3 separate regions of the Homo sapiens genome follow, and all the other regions are linked to region 3. The links come from fine-mapping of genetic effects on gene expression. A gene starts in region 3. Each other region holds a variant in brackets. All regions are shown on one strand. Distances are between the middles of the regions. Region 1 overlaps WWC1 (WW and C2 domain containing 1). Region 2 overlaps WWC1 (WW and C2 domain containing 1). Region 3 holds the start of WWC1 (WW and C2 domain containing 1).

Evidence for each region. PIP is the estimated chance that this variant, and not a neighbour inherited with it, causes the effect. A credible set is the group of variants that fine-mapping cannot tell apart.
Region 1: its variant is the best candidate, but not a certain one, in a credible set for the expression of WWC1 in T cells (TOPMed, PIP 0.53).
Region 2: its variant is the best candidate, but not a certain one, in a credible set for the expression of WWC1 in skin (TwinsUK, PIP 0.82).

The regions. Positions count from the first base shown.
Region 1 is chr5:168,379,971-168,386,204 of GRCh38, forward strand. WWC1 (WW and C2 domain containing 1) reads left to right here. Exons shown (of 23, transcript NM_015238.3): 3 at 5,241-5,444. Among named protein-coding and RNA genes, the nearest start is that of WWC1, 91 kb to the left of the region's middle. The variant C/A (reference allele first, on the strand shown) is at 3,352.
Region 2 is chr5:168,360,698-168,366,931 of GRCh38, forward strand. All of the region lies in intron 1 of WWC1 (WW and C2 domain containing 1), which reads left to right. Among named protein-coding and RNA genes, the nearest start is that of WWC1, 72 kb to the left of the region's middle. RefSeq lists an enhancer at 4,422-4,955. The variant C/G (reference allele first, on the strand shown) is at 2,815.
Region 3 is chr5:168,289,322-168,295,555 of GRCh38, forward strand. WWC1 (WW and C2 domain containing 1) reads left to right here and starts at 2,324. Exons shown (of 23, transcript NM_015238.3): 1 at 2,324-2,950. The coding sequence starts at 2,832. RefSeq lists an enhancer at 873-952 and silencers at 2,097-2,616, 2,717-3,136.

The DNA of each region.
Region 1 (6,234 bases), 91 kb after region 3:
AAAAAGCACTAACCAGAAAAGAAAAATTAATAAATTTGGTTTCATCAAATTAAAATCTTTGTTCCTCAAAAGACATTATTAAGAAACTGAAAAGACAAGCCACAGATAAGGAGACAATATTGCAATACATATCTCTAACAAAGAACCATATTCCAAGTATGTAAAGACGTCCTACAACTTAACAGTAAGAAGCAGCTGGCACAGTCGCTCATGCCTGTAATCCCAGCACTTCAGGGTGCTGAGGTGGAGGGTCACTTGAGCCCGGGAGTTCACGACCAGCCATAGCAAAACATAAGGCAGCACAGGGCAACACAGTGAGACCTCATCTCTACAAAAATAAAAATACAGAATCAGCTGGGGCATGGTGGTACATGCCAAGTAGTCCCAGCTACTTGGGAGCCTGAGGCTGGAGGATCACTTTAGCCCAGGAGTTGAAGACCAGCCTGGACAGCATAGTGAGACCCCCATCTCAAAAAAATAAAAAAATAAAATTCCAACGAGGTATCATTACATACCCACTATAATGACTAAAATGAGGAAAAAAATAACAATACCAACTGCTAGCAAGGATGTGGAAGAACTAGAATTCTGATACACTGCTGGTGAGAATGTAAAATGGTACAACCAGTTTGGAAAAGTTTGCCAGTTTCTTATGAAATTCGACATATACTTGCGAAGTATAATCCAGCAATTCTACCCCTGGTATTTTTGTCCAAGAGAAGTGAAAACATGCCCACACGAAGACTTAGAGTATTCATCATAATAATCCCTAACTGGAAGCAAACTAACAATTTATCACAAAGACAATGTGATGTATTCATACAATAGAATATTATTCAGCAATAATAAGAAATGTACAACAGATACAGCAATAGGAATGAGTCTCAAAAACCTTCTGCTTAGTGAAAGAACCAAGGCCCTAAGAGCAAATAACTGTGTGAGTCCATGCATGTGAAGTTCTAAAACAGGCAAACTGGGAGAGGGGGTGAGTAGAGGAAATTGCCTGGGAGCGTCCAGGGGATCATTGGGGTAAAGGAAATACTCTCAGAAATGTAACAAATTGATGCCCACTTCACACTGTAGATCAATTCAGTGGAAATCTCTCGGGTGATTCCAGTGTGCAACCAGTTTGAGAACCAGTTCTGGTGTGAGTTTGTGTGTTGTTTTTGTCTGTTCGTGCACCCATCTATTCTTATTGGTTTACAAAAGAGACCATGAGCCACAAAAAATGGTCGCCAAGCCACCTGGCTTGGCCAGACCTTCAGGTAAGGGTCTCATATACCTTTATAGTTTTACAGAGCAGTGCTGAGGTCTAAGGCCAAAGGGAAGGTGCCCGTTCCAGATGAAATCCAGAACACTGTGGGAGGGTCCACCTAGGTGTCGCTTAGGGAACTGGACACGGGCCCAGCATTTCAACCAGCACCTGGGCAGGCGATTCCACCTGGAGCCCGCATCGCACCTGCCAGCCTCAGTGACCAATCGGCCCATGTGTTTGTCATCTCTTAAACACCGGTTCTCACCTTGGGTGGCACACTGGAATTATTTGGGGAGCTTTGTAAATCATCATTGCTTTATTCTCACTCCCAGAGATTGGGATTTGATTGATCTGGAGTAGGATTGAAATTTTTAAAAAATTCTCCCGGGTGATTCTAATGTTCAACCAGGGGCTCTCAGCTATATCTGCACCAGAGTCACCCAGAGAAGCTTTAAAAACTGTCAATACCTGAGCCCCACTCCTGGAAATTCTAATTTAAGTGTTCTTCGGGGGGTGGGGTGGGGTTCAGGCTTTTTTTTTTTTTTTGAAGCTTCTCTGCTAATTCTAATATGCAGCAAAGACCCAGAATCACTGGATGAGGCACTGACTTTTAAAAAGAAAAAAAAAAAAGCAATTTCACTGAGAATGTGGGGGGAGGCACTCATGTATGCTGTTTTTGAGAACAGAAATTACCTGCCTTTGGAAGGTAATTTGGTAATATCTATTAAAATTGTAAGTGTGTGTACCCTCTGATCTAGTAGTTTCTCTTTAAGAAACCTATCCCACAGAATTAATAGCACAAATTCATAGACATATGTTTTTAAGAACCCTTACTGCAGCATTGAATGTAGTAGCAAAAGAACTGAAAACAATTCAAATATTTCCCATCGAGGTCTGGTTAAATAAACCCAAATACCATAGCGTGGAACACTGTACAGGTGTTTAAAAGATGGTGCACCTACAGGCAAAAATGAGCATGCTATATCATTTGGAGATGAAAACAAGTCACAGACCAATATAAATGGCATGGTCCATGTTGCATTAAAGTAACCTTGTATATATAGGCGTGTATGTGTAAACAAAAATTCATGTATAATCAGAAGGCAGTATCTGTGTGAGACTCAACAACAGTTACCTCTGGGCAATGGGATTGGAGAGATGGAAACTCTCTTATTTCACAAACTTGTCATGGTGGAATTGTGGGATTTTTCTTTTTTGTACTTTTCATTATTTTGTGGTGAAAAATCAGATCTTCTAAAAGTTGCAAACTTTAAGAAACATTGCCAGCCTGCTCAAGATAGGCTGAGCTGCTTTTTTCTGTGGGCTGTGCCAGCTGGAGGTGTAGGGCAGATCCCTCAGGGGGACCCACGATTCCTGAACGCCAAGGGAATCCACAGCTGCTGATGGGAGATGGGAACCCACAGCAGCTGTTCTGTAGCCCAGTTTTACAAATTCCATCTCCGCCTTGTTTTTTTGTTTTGTCTTTGTATTATTTTTGCATTTGTTCCTGCCTCTTGTTTGGTTTGAAGGGATGGAAAGCTTTCCTCATGAGGGGCAGTTTTTTGTAGCCACTGTAAGCAGTCTTCAGACCTTACTTTTTTTCTCAGAAAAAGGAGGAGGAAAAGCTTGAAGAATTGCTATTCACAGACGATTCAAAAATTGGTCCTAGGCTGGGCACAGTGCCTCACGCCTGTAATCCCACCACTTTGGGAGGCCGAGGCAGGTAGGTCACCTGAGGTCAGGAGTTCAAGACTAGCCTGGTTAACATGGTAAAACCCTGTCTCTACTAAAAATACAAAAATTAGCTGGGCGTAGTGGCAGGCGCCTGTAATCCCAGCTACTTGGGAGGCTGAGGCAGGGATAATTACTGGAACCCAGGAGGCAGAGGTTGCAGTGAGCCAAGATCACGCCACTGCACTCCAGCCTGGGAGACAGAGCAAGACTCCATCTCAAAAACAAAAAAAAAAAAAGAAAAGAAAAAAGAAAAAGAAAACAACAACAATGAAAACTGATCCTAGGCAATAGTTTGGGTTTTACTTTCACTATCATTTGTTTCCTTTACCTGGCACAAGTGCTTTAGTTTCCTGTTTCCTGGG[C/A]AGTAGTGATGCAGGGTTCATTACCCCCTTTAAGAGATACAAAAGTAGATTCAGAGACGTTAAACAGCCTTTCTGTTGTAACACAGCGATTATTGGCAGGAATGAGAACTTGGCCCTGCTGCTTCTTTGATCTTTATTTCACTGGAGATGCTCATTGGACCTGTTTAGGAGGAATGAGAGCTAAAGGGCCTAGATTGGGAGGCATAAACTCCAGTGTTCCCCGGGCTAGGCATATGACATAAATGAATGAAGCAGACCAGGTTTTGACAGATGGGGTGCTGGGATTTCTGACCAGTTGTGAACCCAAGGTGGCCAGAACTTCTGAATGATCAAGAAAAGCCATAAAACAGGATTTTAATGAAGATATCTCTCCATTTTTTACATACCAGTAATCAATTCAGAAGCAATACCTATCTGGAGGCTGGATTCACCACATTGCCCTGATTTTACAATTTCTGGCTTGTTGATCACCCCTAACACCACCCAACAACTGGGGGTGACTGAGGAGTTAATAGTCCATGGGCATTGATTCTTTGACATTATTTTAACCTCTTCCATATCTCGTCAGCTGCTTTTTTTTCAGATCATTAGTGTATATGTTTTTTGTACACATAATTTTGTAAAAAATAAAATATCCTAAAATATCCTGCCACCTAGTTGGTTGTTGATATTTTCCTATTTTCTCATCTTTTTGAGAATGTACATATTGATTTTGATAGATAGTTATTTATTCGGTTTTATGACCTGCATATTATAAGTACCTTTCCATGTTATTAATTTTTCTTCAAAGGTGTTATCTTTATAATAGTGCATTCTGTGAATATAGCATACATATTTGAACACTTATTTCTGTGTGACTTTGAGCAAGTTACTTAACCTCTCTACGTCTCAGTTTTCTCATTGGTATAATGGGGATAGTAATAGAATCTATAAGGTTCGTGTAAGGATTTAAGAAGTGAACATATGTAAAGTTCTTAGAACAGCACTTATCATAGAATCAATGACATGTGCTTGCTACTTCATAATATATTATTATTATGGTTTTGTACAAATATATGACTGAATTTAAATTACTTTTTATAATGAATTACTATAGGGAGAATTATTGGTCAAAGGGTATTAACATTTTAAGGCTCTTAATTTGCATTGTCAGATAGTCTTCTAGTAAGGCTGTTCTAATTCACATTTCCAGCTGGCTATAGGGTACCTATTTCTCCACATCCTCTGAGACATTAGTTATTTTTCTTTCCTTTAGTCTTCACCAAAGGAGATTACCTTGAGCATCTCTAATGTCCTTGAGCCTCTCTGTCTAGATTAGTACTCAAACCTGATCCTTATTCAGGCCGTTCTCAGAGATTGACATTGGGTTTGGAAATTGATCCTGGTTTATTCTTTTTTTTTTTTTTTTTTTTTTCAGACAGAGTCTCATTATGTCATCCAGGCTGGAGTGCAGTGGCACGATCTCAGCTTGCTGCAACCTCCCCCTCCTGGGTTCAAGCAATTCCCCTGCCTTAGCCTCCCAAGTAGCTGGGATTACAGGTGCCTGCCACCATACTGGCTAATTTTTGTATTTTTAGTAGAGACGGAGTTTTACCATGTTGGCCAGGCTGGTCTCAAGCTCCTTGACCTCAAGTGATCCACCTGCCTCAGCCTCCCAATGTGCTGGGATTACAGGCGTGAGCCACCACACCCAACCCCCTGGCTTATTATTTGTTTGACTACTCCAAATGGAGAATCACTGTCATTTAGTAAATGAGTTTGCCCCACTTACATTTATTGTGATTTGTCTATGCATTTTGCTTTTTGTTTTCTGCTAGTGGATACCACAGGCCACCAGCCCAACAGATATTTGTGAGATGCTGACCTAGAATCTCTGGGGTCTGTTCCAGAAACCACTCAGATTGAGGATCCTCGAGTACAATGGCGGCGGGAGCAGGAACATATGCTGAAGGATTACCTGGTGGTGGCCCAGGAGGCTCTGAGTGCACAAAAGGAGATCTACCAGGTGAAGCAGCAGCGCCTGGAGCTTGCACAGCAGGAGTACCAGCAACTGCATGCCGTCTGGGAGCATAAGCTGGGCTCCCAGGTCAGCTGTGAGTACCTCCCACTACCACCACCCCCACCGACACCAACAGAGAATGGCCACACTGAGTTCTGCCAATATTGCTTCTCAAGTCTGCCCATTTCTCTTCACCTCTACTCTTTGTCCAAACCACCATCTTGTTTACTGCTCTTCCTGCTCCTACCTGTGCCTTGCAGTGATTCATTTGCCATTTGCGTTTCATTTTATTTCATTTGTAATCATCTCAGAATGCCAGTCGGATTACATATCTCCTCATTTAAAAGCTTTCAGGGACTAGGGGAATTGGGAATGGGGAATTCTTAGTTAACGAGTACAGAGTTTCAGTTTGGGAAGAAGAAAATTTCTAGAGGTGGATGGTAGTATGTTCACAACAGTGTAAATGTACTTAATGCTACTGAACAATTCACTTAATAAATAGTTAAAATGGTAAATTTTATGTTGAATATATTTACCGCAATTTCAAAACAATCAAATGCCCTTCAGTGGCTTCCCCTCACTCTTTCCATGGCCTATACAGCCCTCCGTGGTCAGGCCCCTGCCAGCCACTCTTGCCTCATCTCATGCCCTCCTCACTAGGCTCCAGATGCACTGAGCCCCCAGCCCCCCTTTCTGTTTCCCTACCCCACCCTGTAATTTTCCACCTCAGTGCCTTAGTATGTGCCGGTCCCCTTCCTAGAATGCTTTGTCACGCATCCATTTGCAAGGCTAAGTCCTTCTCAGTCTTCCAGTCTCATCCTTCAGGTCATCACCTCTGAGAGGCCTGCTCGGACAACTCTATCAGAAGCCTCTCTTCCTCAACT
Region 2 (6,234 bases), 71 kb after region 3:
TCATCATTCTTCTTCCAGTGCTCTGTCTAAACCATGCAGTCTTGGGAGGGGCCCCAAGTCAGACAGGATCTCAGAAAAGTCTTCACGGTCAATTCCATTTCTAGAAGGACCAGCTCCTCAAGCTGTGTGGTAAGGGTCAGAGCTCAAGGAGCAGAAGATTCTGGAATGGCCAAATTCCAGGACAGGGTGAGCTGCTGCCTCTGCAGTTACTGCTGATGAGGCTTCTAGACAGCCCAGCACCTGGGAAGAGCCCTTGGGAACCCAGCTCATGAGGCTGGAAGGAATAAGGCTGGGAGTTGAGTGTCCCCAGAGTCCTAAATACAGAAAGGAGTAGGGCTGCAGGCCTGCCTGGGGTTGTGTGCCAGGTGCTGTGTTGAGTCTTGTCCGTGCATGAATGAATGCAAGAACCTGGGAAGCAGGTTTTCTTGTCTGCTCTATACCTGCAGGAAAACTGAGGCTCAGACCTGGGGGAAGGAATGGACTGAGATTACACAGCTAGGAAGGATGGAACTGGGAGTCCTCTCTGGTTCTGTTGGCTTTTTCTTTAGGGCACAGAGCTTCCATAGCCTAACTCATAATTCAGGAATGAGGATGAAGCTGGGGTTGAGCAGGGTGAGGAGCAAAAAGATATTCCAGGGTCTTCATTCTACTGTGGTGTGGGGCTTTTAGGAAATTACCTTCCAAGTAGGTAATGAGAAAAATGAAGAGCCCACCTCCCAACCTCGTCTCTCCATGAATGGGAGCTTCATAGTTCTCCATCTTGGTTCCTACCCAATGATCAGTCTCATTCGGTATAATAGGGTTAGTTAGCCTGGGAAAATGCTATCAATACCTATTTCTTGGAGGCTGTTCAGATGCTTATTGAATTTCAAATGGAGCCAAGCCCAGCACCAAGCTGATTTGATCTCCTGGCATTATGTGATGCAGGGCTGGAGTTGGTCCCCAGGTCCCCTGGGTCCTTGGGTGGCTCCAGGCAAGTCTTTTATCTCTGTCCCTCAGTTTCCTCATTGGTAAAGAAAGGGAGTTGTTTTGTTGGGTTTCTTTTAATTTTAACATTCTCTACGTTGGGGGCCTCATTTGGGCAGCAGTGTGAAAAATAAATCACTGGGTGCGGTGGCTCACGCCTGTAATCCCAGCACTTTGGGAGGCTGAAGTAGGTGGATCACATGAGGTCAGGAGTTTGAGACCAGCCTGGCCAACATGGTGAAACCCCATCTCTACTAAAAATAGAAAAAATTAGCCGGGCATGGTGGCAGGCGCCTGTGGTCCCAGCTACTTGGGAGGCTGAGGCAGGAGAATCGCTTGAACCCGGGAGGCAGAGGTTGCAGTGAGCCTAGACCGTGCCAATGCTCTCCAGCCTGGGCAACAAGAGTGAAACTCCATCTCAAAAGATAAATAAATAAATAAATGAAAAACGAATCACTCACATTTATCAAGCACTCACTGTGTACTCATGTGCTGTTTCATGCATTATCTCATGTAAGCTTCAAGGAGCACTGTGGGGCAGGTCTGAATGGTACCTGCCTGAAAGGGCTGTTGTGAAGGCCAGCTGAGTAAATATATAAATACATTAACTGCTTGGAACAGTTGCTGGTGCATAGTGAGTGCTCAGTATATGTGTTCTTATTTTTCCTGTTTTGCAAATGTGACAACTGAGCCACATAGAGTTTACATATCTTGTCCAAGGTCACACAGCTAGAAAATGACAGAGCCTGGATTCAAAGCCAGTGAGTCTGGCTCCAGAGCCCTCTGCTCTTAACCAAGAGGCAGGAGTGACACATTAGAAAGCAATGGGGACAAAGTGCATCCAGACAGTGCCTGTCCCCAAAGGTGTGCTAAGTCCGTTTTTAAAATATAGCACTGTAGTAGATCAACAAACATATCTTCAGGCTGAATTTGGCCCTCAGGTTGTCCGTTGGCTTTACCTACTCTAATCCATGATTTGGTTCTCAGAACTGAAATCTTAAACCCAACAGGCAGCACACAGAGGGGATTAGCAGCCTGGATTCACCCCATGTCAGTGAGTGGGAACAGATAAGCATAGAGACTCAAGATGGAGGTGAAGGAAGGGGATGGACCCAAAGGGCACAGGTGTGTGATCTCACCAACCCAGCAGGGCAGAGGGAAGACAGAATCCAAGATTTGGCAGTGGGGAGGTGAGCCACTGGTTTGTGGGGGCCTAGTCTGAAGGTAGGGAGGGTTTGGGGTGGAGGAACCGTCTGGAATCTCCCCTCCAGCCCTCCCTCCTCTTCTTTTTTCTATAAAAGAATTTTAGGATGGGAATAACTAGGCCAAGAAAACTTCTGGGTAAGCCAGCCCAAACAGAGTAGGGAAACAAGGAGATCTAAGGGTGGAAAAGCCAGAATTTTGAGACAGGTGTTCGGAGGGTAGAGAACAAGAGGAAGGGAAGTGTTTACGAGAAGAAGAACTTGGGAATTCCAGGTATAAATGCCTCCTCCTTCAGAGAGCAGATTTTGAGAACCAAATCCAATTCAGCTACTGTCTCCTACCTTCTCCCATTTAACTTTCTAAAAAGAGAGAGGAAGCCAGGTGTGGTGGCTCACACCTGTAATCCCAGAATTTTGGGAGGCCGAGGCAGGAGGATCACTTGAGGTCAGGAGTTTGAGACCAGACTGACAAACATGGGGAAATCCCGCCTCTACTAAAAGTACAAAAATTAGCCCGGCATGGTGGCGGGCACCTGTAGTCCCAGCTACTCAGGAGGCTGAGGCAGGAAAATCACTTGAACCCTGGGAGGTAGAGATTGCAGTGAGCTTAGATCACGCCACTGTACTCCAGCCTGGGTGACAGAGC[C/G]AGACTCTGTCTCAAAAAAAAAAAAAAAAAAAAAAAGATGGTTTAAGCAGTCCCAGCTCCTCCAGGAAGGGAGGTGATAGAATACAGTGCAAGGTTTATTAGCTGTGCAAGCCAGGACAATTATTTTGCTTCAGTTTCCCCATCATGAAAATCGGGGTATAAAACCTAACTCATCCTAACAGCCAATGTAGATTGAACCCTGAATGCCATGTGGTCAGCACAGCCCATTTTAACGCAGCGGTGACTTTGAGCACCCCCATCTTATGGATGAGGAAACAAAGCCACACAGGTTAGAGTTCATGCCCAAGGGGACAGAGCTAATGAGTGACAGTGCCTGCATTGGGACCCAGATGGCTGACTCCAGACTTGTGAGTTTTAACCACCACCGTGTATCTCTTAGGGTGAAGACTGATAATGGTGGGTGTGGTGATGGTGGTGATGATAGCTCACGTGTTAAGGATTTGAGATAAAGGGTGATGTGATTCTTCACAACGCGCAGAACTCTCTGATTATGTTTGCAACCCACATTTATCAAGGGCTTGTCTTGTGCCAGTCCCGGCACTAGATACTGTATAGGTTATCTCATTTAATCCCCACAACACCCTTATGAGAGTGGGCCTTCCTGTGTAAGTTTCACAGAGAAGAAAACTCCTCTCAAGCAGGTTACATAACCCACCTACAGTTCTGGAAGAGGTGGAGCCTGGGTTTCAGCCTCGCATCCCATTCCTGAGCCTTTGTGGGTAACATCTACCCTGCCTCCTCCTTAACCATGGAGCTGACCACAGCTCTTTCCTCCTCCCCTCCCCAGCCCTCCCTGACTACACCCCATTGCTGCATTCTCTCCCTGCCCATGGCCCGTTGGCCTTTCGCGTCTATACTGCTGACGTAGCACCTTATTAAATATCCCTGCATCCTCTAATTACCTGTGGCTCAGGCCGCGGGTAGCGTTACAGCCACATACACTCCCATGGAATGTTGTGGGGATGACTCCCTGCCTGTTTGGAGTGTGAGTCTTGTTCCCCGGCCAGACCCTCTGCCCCTGGAAGCAGAAACATGGCTTCTTCAAGCGTCTGAGCCCTCGTAGTGCCTAGCATGGGCCTGGAGTGCCATACTCACTTGATAAATGCTTGTTGCTTGGTGGATTGATTGAAATGAGGGTGGAAGGATGAGAGTGGAGGGTGAGGCAGAGAGTGTCTCTGGGTCACCCTCCAGCTCAACACAAGGGCAGTGGTCAGAGGAATAATCCAAAGTGCATACCCAGGCCCCAGAGCCGCCAAAGCTGACCTCCGCCTCCACTTCACCTGAATAGCATGGATCTCTCTGAAATGGCCCTCTTGATTTGCTTCTGGCTGGGGTGCATCTCGCCCTCTAGACTGTAAGGGCAGGGCCCTATCTGTCTCTTTCCTCTGTAGCTGGTGTTAACGAAGGCTCTGCTGTGTGTCATGTGCTCAGCTCTCCTAACAAACTTGAGAGATGGTTATTTTTATCATGCCCAGATTTGTTAGACAATGAGTAAAAGAGTCTGAACCAAACTGAATTAAAGGAAGAAGGACTTCAAACGTTGCCTTTCTTCCTGTTCATTCTGGCCTCCCCGGAGCTAAAGGTGAAGGGACTGCTTAGAAATGGTGTTCTGCAGCAGCCCCAGGTGAAGGAGCATTATCAGGAATTGTGCAACCTTAGCTATGGGAACTATGCGTGTGAAACAGCCCAGGGCGGGAAGAACCAGCCTGGCCATTGTGCCTGGGCTGGGGAGGAGAGGTTCGGCTGAAAGTTTGGACAGTTCTTGGCTTGGAGTCTGGAGGGCCCTTTAGAAAGTGATCCCGCCCAGCCAGCCCTCAGAGAGAGCAGGCCAGCATCCTGCTGGACGGTAATAAAGAGGTTACTGTGGGAAGCTGGGACTTGCTTGGGAAACACTAGGAACATGAAAGATAGGGTATGCATTCTTCAGTCCCGAGAGAATCACCACCCAGTATTAAACTTGGCAGAAGGCTTTCCTCTCCTCCTCTGAGCTGCCTCCTTAGAAAAGGCACATTGTCAGAATGCCGAATGCCCACCGTGGTCTCATGTCCTCACAGCCCGTAGGAAAGTAACTACCAGTTACCCACTGGTGGTTGCCCCTGAGAGGAGGGTAAGGGAGGCTTCCAGCCCCCGGGGTGGCTCTCCCCGACAGGTGTGCCTGTGTGCTGTTTGTAGGGTGCTCCTGGCAGAACCTACCTGTCTCCACAGCGACACATCTGGCCGTTTTTCCAGGAGGGCCTGTTGAGAAACATTCAGGAATGTTTGTGCTCCTTTAGAGATTTGTAATTAAGAAGAGGCAGAACTCGTTCTTGTCTGGCACCCTCCCTTCTTGCCCCTCCAGCATCTGGGTCATTTGATTTCACAATTGGGGTTTTCGGCAGCCCGAGTTGTGGAGGCTGGAAGCAGGGACCGACTGAACCAGGCTGGATGGTGGTGAATTGCTTCACCCGAGGGTGGGGGCTGGGAGTTCCAGGCAGGCCCCCAAGTCCTGGCCACATCTGAAAGTGGACATTTCTTCCCAGGTTGCATCCTTAGCACTTGCCCAAGGTGAAACATTTCAGGCCAGTGGAGCACCCACAGTTCCTGGGGGACGGGGGGTGGCTGGTTTAAATGGACAATTCCTCTCCTTAACTGCCAGGAAGAGTGAGTGTGTGCATGTATGTATGTGTGAGTGTGTCTGTTTAAATCTTTGTGCAGCCAAAAACACATCTCTTCATCCTGAATGACACATCTCTACACACTGAATAATTCATCTCCCTCTTGGCATTTGTTCCGGAGAGAATCTTGCTGTCCAGATTTCTTGTAAGTTGCATAGCCTTCCATAGGCACTTCCTTGTTTCCCATGGAAGAGCTCTGGGAGTCAGGATATCAGTCAGTCAGCCCTCTGGCATTTCCCCTGTGATCGCATCAAAGGGGAATGAGAATATCAAACCCAAAGTGTTTCTCTCTCCTTTGCCCTCTCCTTCTAGCTTTGGGTCCTCTTGCCTCCCTCTGCTTTATTTCTCTTGGGCACAGTGTCTGTGTTCACTGCAAGTGGAATCAGCATTGTGTCCTGGTAGGGTATCCACATGTCTGTCACATTACTGATGCTTGGAGCGAATAAATGTATTTGGCTCTGACATCTCAACGTGTAAGGCTGGAACAATCAGTGGAGTTAATGGTTTTCCAGATAGTGACACATTTTCGGGGTTTCAGTCCCGTCCTCCTAACCCCATCTCCATCCTCACACCCAGCAAGCTCAGTAAATCATTTGTATTAATGACTTTGAAACACTTTTTTTTTTTTTTTTTTTTTTTTTGAGATGGAATCTTGCTCTGGAGTGCAGTGGTGTGATCTCAGCTCACTGCAGCCTCCGCCTCCCAGGTTCAAGCGATTCTCCTGGCTCAGCCTCCCGAGTAGCTG
Region 3 (6,234 bases):
CATGTTCCACATCCCAACCATGGGGAAGTTCTGAGGCTGCAGAGTGATTTAAAAAAGAAAGAAAGTCTCCAATCTGGGTGACAGAGCGAGACTCCGTCTCAAAAATAAAAAGAAAGAAAGAAAGAAAGTCAGCCAGGCAAGGTGGCTCATGTCTGTAAGCCCAGCACTTTGGGAGGCTGAGGTGGGCGGATCACCTGAGGTCAGGAGTTCGAGACCAGCCTGGCCAATATGGTGAAACTCCAGCTCTACTGAAAAATACAAAAATTAGCTGGGCGTGGTGGCGCAGGCCTGTAATCCCAGCTACTCTGGAAGCTGAGGCAGGAGAATTGCTTGAATCTGGGAGGCAGAGGTTGTAGTGAGCCGAGATCATGCCACTGCACTCCAGCCTGGGGGATGGGGGGAGACTCCATCTCAAAAAAAGAAAAAAAGAAAGTATAGGTTAATAACTGAGAACACTGCACTAGAGTCAGACCTAGTCTGTCTTATGAGCTCTGTATCCCAGGCCAACAACAAAGCATCTTGGAGCCTCATCTGTAAAATGGGTATAATAAATAGACTTTCCTATGCCAGAGGGTTGTTATGAAGATTGAGATCATGTATTCAAAGAACCTAGCACCAGGTTGGCTTTGCTTTGGGGCTACTGCTCTAATCAATAGTGGGTTTTTATGTAGTAAAGGCTTGACCCAAACAGAGGAAGTGTAGAGGGCTGTGGGAATTCCCCCATAAAGGAATGGGGAATTCCAACTTTTGGGTGTTGAGGGCCAGTCTGAGGCTGGTGTCCCTGGACTCTGGTGCCTGGTATTTATGGAATGAAGGAGGGCCAAGCACTGAGCCCCGAGGCCTGGCCTCAGGGAAGGAATTAACTATGAAGAAGGCATTTGGAGGCGAGGCTCACTCTGGTGGGTCTTTTCTGTCAAGAGGAGATGAGACCACAAACATGATTCCCTCTCTGGCTCAGCAACACCCTGGTCCATACAGCACAGGGTGCTGGTTCTTCTGGAAGACCGTGGGGCTCAGGCAAGAGAAGACACCCAACTGGGCTTCATTCGACCAGTCCAGCTTCCTGCCATATGCCGAGGGCAAAAAAGGGTTAAATTCCCACTCAGTACACAGATGTAAGAGGAGATGGGGAAGTGAACAGCCAGTTGATCATTCACTCAATCATGCTAGCTTGCTTTTTGTATTTAATGCTACATTTTAAATTTATTTATTTATTTATTTGAGACAGAGTCTCGCTTTGTTGCCCAGGCTGGAGTGCAGTGGTGCGATCTTGGCTCACTGCAACCTCCACCTCCCAGGTTGAAGTGATTCTCATGCCTCAGCCTCCCGAGTAGCTGGGACTACGGGCGTGCACCACCACGCCCAGCTAATTTATTATTATTATTTTTTAGTAGAGATGGGGTTCACTATGTTGGCCAGGCTGGTCTGAAATCCTGACCTCAGGTAATCTGTCTGCCTCACCCTCCCAAAGTGCTGGGATTACAGGCGTGAGCCACCGCACCCACTAATTCTACATTTTTAATTTCTCAAGAAACATTGTGTCTCTGATTGTTTTATTCTCTTGAACATTTTTCAAGATGGAATTTTGCTTTGCTTACTTTCTTCTTTTTCATAGCCCCACTTCTCCCAAATCCATAACACACCTACCTCAAAGTATCACAGGAAAGAAAGCCTGTGAAGCTGCTAGCCACAGCCTGTCACAAGTAAGTCCTCAATTTAGCTAACAATAACAATGGCATTACTATTACTTTTACAAAGTGTTTTCCCTGACACCCTCTGGAAGTCCTCCCAGGAAAGCGGATCCACAGCGCTCCTAATTTTAGGGACCCTGAGGGGAGCCAGCTACATTTCCAAATGGTGGGGAAGGGTGGAGGGTGGGCGAAACGTCGTAGGGAGAGTTGAATAGAAGGAGACAGATGGTGCCTGTGTTGGGGGAAGGGACCAGAGATCCTGGAAAACTTATGTTTCCCAATTCGCAAGAATGTTTCCATTTAACCACTTCTTGCCTGACTCCTGATTCTACACCACAGAAAAGCAGGGAGTTTTTAAGATTTGGGGCCACCTGTGCCGAGAGCCTGGCTACTCCGGGTGGAGAGAGACAGGAGCGTTTTAAGTACAGGCAGAGCGGTTTTTGGCCCAGCCCCCTAGGTCTGGGACGCAGGTGAGGGGCGGTCTCTCCTTCCCCTGGCAGGGGCAGCGTAAGGGTGGCCGGCGGCTGGGACTGTCCCACGAGGGGGCGCGTCTCGGGCCCTAGGACCCGCCCTCGAGGCGCTGCGCGCGGGGAGGGGACCCGGGAACCCAGGCGCCCGGCGCTCCGCCTCCCGTTTCCGGGGCAGCGCGGTTACCTGCACCGCCCGAGCCGCACCTGGCGGAGGCAGAAGTCACAAACCCGGCGAGCTCAGAGCGGTGGAGCGGAGAGGAGGGACGGCACCCGGCTGCAGGGAGGAGGGAGGCGGCAGCGGCAGCGGCGGCGTGGAGGGCGCAGCGCGCCGCGCGGCGGAGGAGGGCAGACGGCGGCGGCGGCGGCGCTCGGCTCGCTCTGCCCGGCCGGCTGGGCGCGCACCCGGGCTCGCACCGCGCCGCTGCGGACGCACATGGCAGCGTGAGAGGCCGGCGGCGGGAGGAGCGGGCGGCGCCGGGTCGGGGCTGCAGGGCCGCATGGACAGCGGCGCCACCCCGGCCGGCCCCTACTAGGGCCCCCCATCTGCGGGCGCCACCCCCCGGATCATGGTGCCTCGGCGGCCGCCCGGGCTAAGAGCGGCCGGCTGGAGCCGCTGAGCCCCCGCTGCGGCCGGGAGCTGCATGGGGGAGCGCCGGCAGCGCTTGGGAAGATGCCCCGGCCGGAGCTGCCCCTGCCGGAGGGCTGGGAGGAGGCGCGCGACTTCGACGGCAAGGTCTACTACATAGACCACACGAACCGCACCACCAGCTGGATCGACCCGCGGGACAGGTAGGACCCTGGAACCCTCCTCCGTGCCCCCACACCCCCGCCTGGGCCCCCACCTGCCCCTGGAGCCGCCGGCCGGGACTGGGAGGGGGCAGGGGAGCTCTGCGTGCCTCTTGAGCTCTCTTCAGTTCGCCACCCCCTGCTCCCCCCAACCTTCTGGAGCGCTGCTCCCGCCTCAGTGGGCCACCGAGAGGAGGCGCCTGCCGGGGAGCTGGCCCAGGCTGCCCCACCGCCATCCCCAGTTGGAGGACTTAGGCCCCAGCCGGCACCTGCCCGGAGTTTTGACCTTAAGCTCTAGCCCCGCCCGCCCCCTTTAGGAAGAGAGGTCGGGCGGGGGCGGGGGTTGGGGGAGCGACCTAGCCGGGTGAAGCCGGGTCTTCCCGGGGAGGCTTCCACCCAGCGTGGGGGGTGGGCGGATGGGGATGGGGAAGTGTCCGGTTAGAGGGGGTGGTCAAGACCCCAGGATTCCGTGGGAGACCACTGGAGAGAGGGCACTCGGCGCAGAGGAAGGCAACCTGAGGTGTGCTTTTTGACAGGTGCCTTGGAAGCTGCTGAGAACAGCACAGGGGCAGCCAGGGGGCCCTGGAACCCGAGGGTGGGGAGGAAGTGAAGAAGCGGGGGAGGGCAGATGAGGGAGACTGGTTATCCAGGAATCTGGCAGCAACTTGGAAGCTGTTAGGATGGAGATGGAGGTGAGAGGCCTCCCGGAAAGCCTTGCCCCTCGCCTCTTTCTCCTCTCTTTCTTCCCTGATCGGGGAAGGGGGCGGCGAGGCTCCTCAGCCCTGCACCAGCGGGACCTGACCTTGGTGGGTACCAGGCCGCTGTAGGTTGAGATAATGTGCAGAGGCAGATGGAGCCTGAGATAGCTCGGTGTGGCTCTTACCTCTCCAGACTTTCTCCTGGTTGTTTGGCATTTCTTTGCTCACATGCTGCACACACACACATACATTCACCCTCTCCATGTATGTCCTAGAGTCCCCGGACCACGATGTTGTTGACACGGTCTGTGGGCAGAGTGTCTTGGGGAATGCGGACTTTAAACCTTGTCTGTGACCTTGGGGGTCAGGTCCCTGTAAAGCAACCAAGGTGAATTTCTTGGACTCTTCATCTTGTGTGGTGGGGGTGGAGGTGTCCCAGAAGTGTATGTAGCAAGATGTGGGTCAAAAAAAGAATATAAGCGGAAAGAAAATGAGAGTTGAGATTCTCGGTAGTTTCTGGGAGCACTTACTTTCATTCATTCATTCATTCGTTCATTCAGCGCTTCCTGGATGCCTCCTCTACACTCAGCACCATGCTGAATGTCTCATGAATGTAATCTGGAAGGTAAATATTTAGTGCTAGAGAGCATCTCTTAGGCAAGCTGCTTCAACCTCTGAGCCTCAGTTTCCCTGTTTGTCAGATGGGGGAGCCCACCATTTCCCTGAATTTAAAAAGTTTGCTTGGAAGGGAATATTGGGATGCTTAAAACTTGGAAGGGACGTACATCAGCGCCCAACTCCCATTTGAAACATAAGAGAAAATTTGAAGCCCAGAGGTGTGATTTGCTCAAGTATTTTGATTTTTCTGCCATTCTGCGTACCAGTTCTTCACCAGCTCTGAAGTTCTAACCTGCAAACTTGTCACCCTGACACACTGCTTCCCCACCCTTACTCGGGTCAGTTGCCAGCTCTGCTACTGTGTTGGTGAACTTGGCAGCACCTTTTCTCTTGTCCTTTTCTCAGAACAGACACAAGTTCAAACATATGTGACCTGCCCCAATTTAGGTCCCTGTAGTTTACGGAGGCCTGTGTGCTGTTAGCAGGTGGACGTCCTGTTGGAGGGAAAGGACCGCCCCTGCCAACACTGATAATCATGCATCTGGGGACTTCTAATACAGCAATAGGAGGCCCCTCTCAACAGTAATTCTTTACCCTTGGAAAAGGGTAAGTAAGTAGCTTCTATGAAGAACTGATTGGCTGGAGCACAATCTCCCAAATTTTAGTGTTACATGGACCACCTCCATGATTTTTTTTTGCTATATCCACCTGTGCTATTGCTTACTTACTCCTTGACTTTAGATCAACTCACTTTAAAAATATGTGTACCATTTTCACAAATGGGAAACTAGTTATATCTATTGTCATACAGGGGAAACAAAAAAGATAGGCAAACAAAAAAAACAAAAAACCAGGGTTAGTATATTTTAGCTAGGTACTGTGGCCAGCCTAAGGCCACAGCACCTCACCTGCCCAGCCTTTGTTTTTAAGCAGATTGGCAAGCCATGGAGAGGCGGCAGAAACATAGTGGCACTTAGGTGAGCAGCTCACCTTCTTCATCTTGTGTCATTGGTTTTTTTGTTTGCTTTTGGTTTTTTTGTTTATTTGTTTTTGTTTTTTGGAGACAGAGTCTCGCTCTGTCGCCCAGGCTGGAGTCCAGTGGTGCGATCTTGGCTCACTGCAAGTCTGCCTCCTGGGTTCAAGCGATTCTCCTGCCTCAACCTCCCGAGTAGCTGGGACTACAGGTGCACGCCACCACATCCAGCCAATTTTTTGTATTTTAGTAGAGATGGGGTTTCACTGTGTTGCCCAGGCTAGTCTTGAACTCCTGAGCTCAGGCAATCCGCCCACCTCAGCCTCCCAAAGTGCTAGGATTACAGGCGTGAGCCACCACGCTTGGCCTTGGGTCACTGGTTTATAAACTTCATCTCTGTACCTCCTTGTCATCCCACCTGGACTGGGGTGGTATTGGGCCCCTGAACTTGGGGTCCTGAGGGGGTCTCATGTCAACTCTGGGGGTCACTATTGTGGTCCAGCTTTGTATGTTTTGGAAAAGTGCTAATTGGAGGATAGCCACTTGTGGTTTTCTGGAATTTCCCTCCGGCATACCCCATTTTTGCCTTTTAGTTCTGTCTGTGTGGCCTTGGGCAAATCACTTGACCTCTCTGAGGTTTGAGTGCTTGAGAAGTGGGTTGGTTAGATGGTCTTCAAGGGCCTGCCAGCTCTTAAATATTATTTCAAACCCTTCTGCCGCTCTTACCTCTCCAGACTCCATGAGAGGAGAAGGGGGAACAGGGATGGGCTATGAGAAAAAGGAAGAAGAAATTTAACAAAGCTGAAAAGAGCCAAACTTATTCCGGGGGGTGGTGGGTTGGGGAGAAAAAATTCTGCCAAGGTAGTTATATCCCTGCAATTAATTAATGCTGTGAGACAAAAAATTGCACTAAAAATTTCTACTCCGTGTGTGTGTGTGTGTGTGTGTGTGTGTGTGTGTGTTTATTTGCCTTGGATTTTTCCTTACCTGAATCATGG